Homo sapiens: one gene and its partner. The protein of the gene in region 1 purifies or fractionates together with the protein of each later gene. This does not show direct contact. Each region holds a gene or a part of one and is shown on either strand. Other genes may lie near its edges. The genes, in order: ZNF316 and ZNF346.

What was found.
Region 2: the proteins of ZNF316 (region 1) and ZNF346 purify together in Homo sapiens (co-immunoprecipitation; one large-scale study listed by IntAct). This does not show direct contact.

Annotation. Positions count from the first base shown.
Region 1 is NC_000007.14:6,635,797-6,640,321, reverse strand, and holds the start of ZNF316 (zinc finger protein 316), read right to left. Parts: upstream 3,005-4,525; 5' UTR 2,875-3,004; intron 2,477-2,874; 5' UTR 2,313-2,476; intron 1,281-2,312; 5' UTR 1,181-1,280; intron 1-1,180. UniProt on the Homo sapiens protein: May be involved in transcriptional regulation.
Region 2 is NC_000005.10:177,043,089-177,046,894, forward strand, and holds part of ZNF346 (zinc finger protein 346), read left to right. Parts: intron 1-638; exon of another isoform or gene 639-1,128; coding exon of another isoform or gene 1,129-1,131; intron 1,132-1,300; coding exon 1,301-1,445; intron 1,446-3,806.

The DNA of each region.
Region 1 (4,525 bases):
TGTACAGCCTGCAGAACCATGCGCCAGTCTCACCTCTTCTTTATAAATGACCCAGTCTCAGGTATTTCTTTACAGCAATGCGAGAACAGCCTGACACCTGGACAAACACCCAAACCATAGCAGCCGCGCGTACTCATTTCCTGAACTGCTTTGAGCAGTTGCTTTAAAATCCACACTTTAATAGCCAGGAAGCTCTGAGCATTCACACAGGCTCACCCAAGTCAAAGGCTGGGACACACAGGCATCCAGAAGCCACCTCTGTCCCGAAGGTCACACGTGCCCCCTGACTGGCTCCAGCCCCCTTTCTAGTTTCAGAATCACTAACCCCCAAAGACTCAAGTCACAGAACTACGCCTGGGAGCGCCACCCCAACCTCCAGCCTCTCCCAGAAGCCAACCTTCTCAGTGTCCACAGCTCTTTGGCGTGTGAAGATGCCCAAAGTGTCGAAATCCACGTGCTGCGTGTTATGCTAGCCACCTCCAGGAGGACACGGCCCTGCCCAGCACTCAGGGCGCTGGGTACACGCAGCAACGGTTTCCCAACTGCCACCCACTTGAGGCCCAGAGGAGGGCTTTTCTCTTTCAAGCCTCAGGCCGCAGATTCAGGCTGGGCCTAGGTGCCATGCCAAGCTCAGTAGAGCTGTCTCCTGCCTGGCCACCACCTGAAGCAGCAACTTTAAACTCCCAGAGCCAGGCCGCCATATATGAGGACACAACAGAAGAACACTTCACAGCTTTGGAATAAAGTGGCTGCATGTTCATCTCATCTCAGGCCGTGTGTGTGTTATTCCCCATCCCCAGAACTCTCTTCCCCTTTTCCTGGGTGGTCTTCTGAGGCAGCCCCCTGGGCCCCAGTGGGTGACACAGTTCCCTGTAATTCTTCCCTCACAGCACTCACCACATCTTAAAAATACACTTATGAGACTGTCTTATCATCTCTCTCCCTGAGTACAGCCAGCTCCTGGGCGGCAGAAGCTCCCTTTGCTCATGTCTGAATACCCCTCACACCAGCACTTAAGAAGCATTCAAATACTTACTAAAAGAATGTCTAAAGTCGCCAGCCAATGTGATGGACACAGGATTTTTCAAACTCAGCATTTTGGCCCTACTGTCCTGTTCCAGAACAGACTGACCACTGCTGGGGGTAGGGGGTTGGGGGGACCCTTGGAATTGGAACTCACCCCAGAAGCAGTGGAGAGTCTCTGCCTCCAAAGACGACACTGAGTTCTTTCTCCCAAGAAGTCCACCCACGGATGACCAGAGAAGGTGGAGGACCAGCTCCTACAGAGGTCAGAAGCACAGCCAGACATCGTCCCCAACCCAAGATTCAGAACATAATGGTTTGAAAAACGGACCTCAGCAGTCCGGGCAGAGTTTAGATTCCAGCAACTCCCCCTGGGTTATCTCTGCCTCCCCCAGGCCTGCACTCTTGCCCTCTTCTTGCCAGCCTGCCAGTCCACTGTAAACACTGCTCACTTCTCCCTCGGCATCCAACTCTGGGTCAGAGGCCACAGGGGGTCTCATCAGCATCAATCCCAAACCAGAGGCCACAGGGAGCTTCACCAACGTCATCCCAAACCCTCATTTCTCAAACTCCCCACCTCAGGTGATCCACCCGCCTCGACCTCACAAAGTGCTGGGATTACAGGCGTGAGCCACCTCACCCGGCCCCAAACCCTCATTTCTACTAGGGCCCTGCACTCTAGGATACGGTGCTGCAGCCAACATTTAGAATGGGAGGTGACAAGGTATCTCCCAAGAGGAGAAGGGAGCGAGGCAAGGGCAGGAAGAAGAGGCAAAGCTTGAAAGTTGATAGAAACTCCTCACAAAAGCTCCAAAGCCAGGGAAACCCAACTCAGAGAGCGGGAGATGTGGGGGTGTGCTTGTGTCTAGCCCCCTTCATTCCCTCTGGGTGGCCCCCGCTGCCCTCAGAGCCCTTCGGGTCTTCATGCCCTCCTGAAGGACTTCCTTCCCCGACCACCACAGTCCTCACTGTCTGTCCTCGGATTCTGGATCCCCCTACTTTCCTGGGTTTGCTCCTGGTGCAGGTTATTTCCACGGGGGCCATCTCAGGTTCCCCAGGGTAGCCCCCTCACCACCCCACCCGGCCCCCAGACCTGCCCACACTTGTTGAACCAAACCAAGCACCGAGGTCTCCCCACACAAGCAGAGCTGGGGGCCTGATCCTCCTGGTACCTGCACTTCCTCTTGCCCATCGGGTCCTCGACCAAAGCCCAGCCCCTTTCCTACCTCTGCTGCCACGCGGGACAGCCCAGACCCCATCCAATCCCAGGGATGGGTGTCCCTACCTACCTGCCGGCAGCAGAAGACAGCCGAGCAGCCCACCGGGGCTCCTTCTGCAGATGAGGGAAAGCCCGGATAAGGCCCCCAAGGTCACAAAGCGGGCTCCTGGGGCGACGGGCCGAGCGCCTCCCGCCCCCCAGGGGGCGTCCGGAGCCGCCTCCTCCTGCAGAGACCTAGACGATGACAGCCCCTCCTGGATGGGTGTGTCCTGGGGGCGGCCGCGGCCCAGCCCCTGCCGCTGCGGCCGAGAAGGCGTGGGCGGGCACCCCGAGGTGTCACGCGTGGCCTCCCGGGCCTGCCCCCTCCGCCTCCTGCCCGGACCGGCCCCGGGGGTCGGCAACGCGCAGGCCCGGACGGGGGTCCGGGAGGCGGGGGCGCTGCCGCGGAAGTCCCTACCCGCGTTCCGCTCCGACTCTGCAGGCCCCGGCCCCGCCGCCTCCCCGCGGCCTCCCCGCGCCGGGCGTCGAGGGCCAGCCCGGCCCCGCCGCCGCCGCCGCCCCCGAGCGCAAGCCCGGCCCGCCCGCACCTGCCGCCCGCGCCGCCGCCCACCGGCCCCGCGAGACCCACTCACCGCGCGGGCCGGGCTGGCCGAGCCACGGGCCGGACACCGGGGCCGGGGCCTGCGGGCCGGCGGCGGACCCCGCGCTACACAAAGTGACGGCCCGGGAGCTGCGCGACGGCGGCGCGTGGGCACCGGAAGTACCGCCGGCCGGCCCCGCCCCGCCCGCGCCCGCGGGGGGAGGAACTTCCGGTCACGCGGGGGCAGCGGCGCGGAGCGGGGAAGCGCGGGTTGCGGGGGTTTGCCCAGCTGGGCCTCGGGCCGGGGCGAGGACGGGGCATGCGGGGAGGGGACGGGAGCGCCCTCGACACTCGTGGGGCGCCCACAACCTCGCCCCGCTCCTGGACACCCTGGCCAGGTCTCGGAGGTGACCCCGAGGTCCCGCCGCTGCGACCACCGCCTTCCCCGAACCCCAGCCCGGCCTCGTTCATCGGGGCGCCCGCTGAGGACCAGGCCCCGCGCTGGGCCCCCTCCGCCAGTCCACGGAGCCTGCCCGGGACCCCAGGATGGTGGAGGGAGGAGGCGACCCCTGTGGTGGGGAGGGGGCCAGGTGTCCACGCCTCCACCAGATCCCCGGGCCCGCGCGGGGTGAACGTCTTGTGGGTGGGGAGGGAGGAGGGACGGGCGGGGTGAACGTCTTATGGGTGGACTGTGGCGGTTGAGTGCAGGAGGAGACTGGGGTTGTGGAGCCCGCACTTGGAGGGACATGGGGTCACGGGCAGGGAAGCGATGTCCAGGCAGAGGGCATGGCCAGTGTGGGGGCAGAAGTGACAGGCGACCCCAGGAACCCAGGGAGGGGTCGGTGAGCTCAGCGGCCACCCCCAGACCCCCACCCACAAGCCTGTCTGCACCTGCTCCCAAGAGGTGCAGCTGGGGTGTCAGGATGAGCTCTGGCATTGGTGGAGTCCAGGGTCTGTCTTCCGCCTGGAATGGTGTGGCCTGGGCCCCTTCCCCAGCTCCCAGCCCGCCTGCACCACTGTTCTTGGTGCTTTTCTGTGGGGACCCCAGGCCTGACTGGGCAAGAGATAGAGGAGGACTCGGCCAGGCACGGTGTCTGTAATCCTAGCACTTTGGGAGGTCTTGGCGGGCGGATCACGAGGTCAGGAGTTCGAGACTAGCTTGGCTAACATGGTGGGTGAAACCCCATCTCTACTAAAAATACAAAAATTAGCCGGCCGTGGTAGCGCACCCCTGTAGTCCCAGCTGCTTGGGAGGCTGAGGCAGGAGAATCGTTTGAAGCCGGGAGGCAGAGGGTGCAGTGAGCCGAGATCACACCACTGCACGCCAGCCTGGGCGACAAGGTGAGACTCTGTCTCAAAATAATAATAAGATAGAGGAGGACTCAAACCTTAGTCCCACAGAGGGGTGCAGCCCCAACCCCTTGAATCAGACCCTCACAGTGATGTCGCTTGGCTCTTGGTGTCTTAAAATGTCTTAAAGTTAATAACATTTTAAAATAAGGAGTCCCATTCTTGTTTAAAAAATAAAATTGAAAAATCAGGTTCTAATGCGGGGTCTCACACCTATAAATTAAGCACTCTGGGGGGCCGAGGCGGGTCACACCTGTAATCCCAGCACTTTGGGAAAACAAGGTGGGAGGATTGCTTGAGCCCAGGAGGTTGAGGCTGCAGTGAGCTATGATAGCACCACTCCACTCCAGCCT
Region 2 (3,806 bases), on another chromosome or scaffold:
TGATCTGCCTGCCTCAGCCTCCCAAAGTGCTGGGATTACAAGTGTGAGCCACTGCGCCCAGCCGCCTGGCTGATTTTTTAAAAAATTTTTCGTAGAGACAGGGTCTCGCTTTGTTGCCCAGGCTGGTCTCAAATTCCTGGTCTCAAGTGATCCTCCCACCTCAGGCTCCCAAAGTACCAGGATTACAGGTATGAGCCACCACACCTGGCCCTTTTCTCACAATTTATAATTCAGAAAGGCAAGATAAACTCTATGACCCTGGGCAAGTTATTTTACATATTTGCACCCTATTCAGAGATCAGGCTTTCTGAGAGAGATGCTGGGATCCCTTTATGTAGTCTTGAAATACATGGTTTCCTAGCCTAATCATAATCAACAAGTAGAACGCAATGGGAGGCTGGGTGCGGTGGCTCATACCTGTAATCCTAGCAATTTAGGTGGCTGAGGCAGGCGGATTGCTTGAGCTTGGGAATTCGAGACCACCCTAGGCAATATGGTGAAACCCCGTCTCTATAAAAAATACAAAAATTAGCCGGGTGTGGTGGCATATTCCTGTAGTCTGGCTACTTGCAGGGGTGGGTGGGAGAATTGCTTGAGCCCTGGAGGTGGAGGTTGCAGTGAGCCGAGATCGTGCCACTGCACTCCAGCCTGGGCAACAGAGTGAGACCCTGTCTTAAAAAAAAAAAACCTAATGGTCCACTTGTTCAGCAAACTCTGAGCATCTACTGTGTGCCAGACTCCAGCTGGGTGTGAAGGATAAGAAACAAAAATGAGTCAAATAGTCCGTGTTCCAATGTCACACTTGAGTTCACAGAAAAGTCTCCTAAGCTATGACACTGTCAGTTTAGGGTGGCAAGTGGTATGACAGAGGTCTATTTAATGTACTCTGGGAGCACAGAAGAGGAGCAGGGTTAATTCTTCCTGGAATACACAAAGGGACTTGACAGTTGTTTACTGAATGATGTTTTTTTTTTTTTGAGAGAAAGTCCCCCAGAGGAAAAGCTTATATTTAAATTGGGTCTTGAAGGCTAAGCAGACACGCTGCCAAGCAGGAAAGGAAGGAAGCACATTTTAGACAGCAGGAATGGCCAAAGCAAAGCAAGGAAGCATCAGAGAATAAAGTGGGGGATGGTGAGTAGAGTCTGGGACAAAGTAGCTGGAGAAGAATCTAGAAAGTAGGTTGGGGTTAATGTGTGAGGGGGGCCATAAATGCCTGTTCTGTTATGGGCAGTGGGGAACCATTGAAGATTTTCTGGTGGGGCAGTGGTATGATCAGACCTGTGTTCTTTCTTCCAACCAGAAGAGCAGCAGAAGCAAAGACAAGAACCAGTGCTGCCCCATCTGTAACATGACCTTTTCCTCCCCTGTCGTGGCCCAGTCGCACTACCTGGGGAAGACCCACGCAAAGAACTTAAAGCTGAAGCAGCAGTCCACTAAGGTGGAAGGTACTGGTTTTCCTGAGTAGTGCTATAGTGGGACCCCTGCCGTCCTCAGGGCACTACTGCCAGGGGCTCACAGAGATCCTCACTGAGGCCACAGACTTGAAGAAGTTGAATTGCTTTTGAGAACCCTTAAAAATCTCCAAGTAGACCCAGCTTCACTGAAATGCAATCTCAGAATTATGCTCACCTAACCTCCCTTTCTTTGGTTATAGGTTTTTCTCTATAGGCTGAGCTTTTGTCCTGACTAATAATTATAACTCAGGAGTGCCAAAGTCCTCCAGGCCACGCATACCATGAGAGCATTCTATCTCCTACCTCTCCCACTAGATTTTTCCATCCCAGCATCCACCTGCCCTTATTACTGCATGTTCCAAGTTGAAAGCTAAATCCTTGTCTTTTTCACATGCTCAGGTTATGGCCTACTCACTTTAATCCTCAAAAGCTGCCTGTTCTCCTCAAGACAGGGACTTGCCTTTCAAAGCTGAATACTTCAGTGCTGCTACTACTGCCCCACAATCTGTAACTGCCATGAATTCATTCCCAGTACAGTGACTTCTGAAATAGCCCCCTTTATCTCGTCACGACTAGGGCTCAGCCCTCACTTTCATCTCATTAACTCCTGACTTTCTGGGGTTTTAACCTCTGCTAATTGCAATTAGTCAAGAGTGAAAGTTCTTTGATGTTTATTTCATTGTTTTCTTGATAATTTTTGCTTCTCTATTTTGGACCAAGAAGTAGACTACACTATTAGTAATACTATTATCCTTTTTGTGTTTACTGACAACTGTGTTTTGGAAGCCTTCAAAGGTAGGGTGAAAAATCACTCATAATTTTTTTTTTTTGAGATGGAGTCTCGCTCTGTTGCCTAGGTTAGAGTGCAGTGGCATGATCTCGGCTCACTGCAAGCTCTACCTCCCAGGTTCATGCCATTCTTCAGCCTCAGCCTCCCAAGTAGCTGGGACTACAGGTGCCCACCACCATGCCCAGCTAATTTTTTTGTATTTTTTAGTAGAAACGGGGTTTCACTGTGTTAGCCAGGATGGTCTCAAACTCCTGACCTCGTGATCCACCTGCCTCGGCCTCCCAAAGTGTTAGGAATACAGGCATAAGCCACCACGCCGGCCAAAACCTTTTTTTTTAAATAGAGATGGCTTCTCACTATATTGCTCAGGCTGGTCTTGAACTCCTGGCCTTAAGTGATACTCCCATCTCAGCTTCCCAGAGTGCTGGGATTACAGGCATGAGCCACCACACCTGGCCACTCATAATTACACCTTTTTATCACACCCACATCTAGTTATTCATGGTATGAAACAGCAGAATGTGGACTTTGAAGTCACAGAGTCCCAGGTTTAAAGCCTGGCACTGTTACTGTTTATATGACTTTTTTGTGTCTGAACTGCCTAACCTATAAAATGATAATAATACTGTCTACTTCATCGGTTGTGAGGATACAATAATGTGTATTAAAAACACAGGACATAGGCCGGGCATGGTGGCTCATGCCTGTTGTAATCCCAGCACTTTGGGAGGCTGAGGTGGGCAGATCACTTGAAGTCAGGAGTTCAAGACCAGCCTGGTCAACACGGTGAAACCCAATCTCTACTAAAAATAACAAAAATTAGCTGGGTGTGGTGGCACGAGCCTGTAGTCCCAGCTTCTTGGGAGACTGAGGCAAGAGAATCGCTTGAACCCGGGAGCTGGAGGTTGCAGTGAGCTGAGATCGCACCATTGTACACCAGCCTGGGGGACAGAGCAAGACCTCGTCTCAAAAAAAAAAAAAAAAAAACCAATTTTATAAGGTCACAGACTTCTCTTCCCACAAATGGGAAAATTCTCTGCATTATGCCTTGTCCCTGAAATTTCATACTCGAGATTATTTTCCATATTCACTTTCAGCTTTTGCCACATACTTTGTTTTTATATAGTTGTGATCATAATGCAGGTACCCTTTATATCCCGCTTTTACTTTTCATTTAATTTTACAGCTTAAGCACATTTCCATGTTATTACACAACTTTATAACTATATTTCTGAAATTAAACACTTTTTAATGTAAAGTAATATAATCATGTTGTAAGAGATAAGGAAAACATGGATAAATGGAAAGAAAAGTTACCCATAATTTTACCATTCACAGATAAACACTGTTAACATTTTGGTTTCTCCTATAATCTGTTTCTCCTATAATCTTATTGTTATATGTATCTTTGTATATCTGTGTGTATATTCGTTTTGTGTATATCTAGGTTAACTCCGTGTATATGTGCATATAAACATAGACTACTTTAAATAACTTTCATGTTTTTATAAAAACAATGCATACTCATTATGAATAATTCCACTTCAAACAATTGCAAAAGA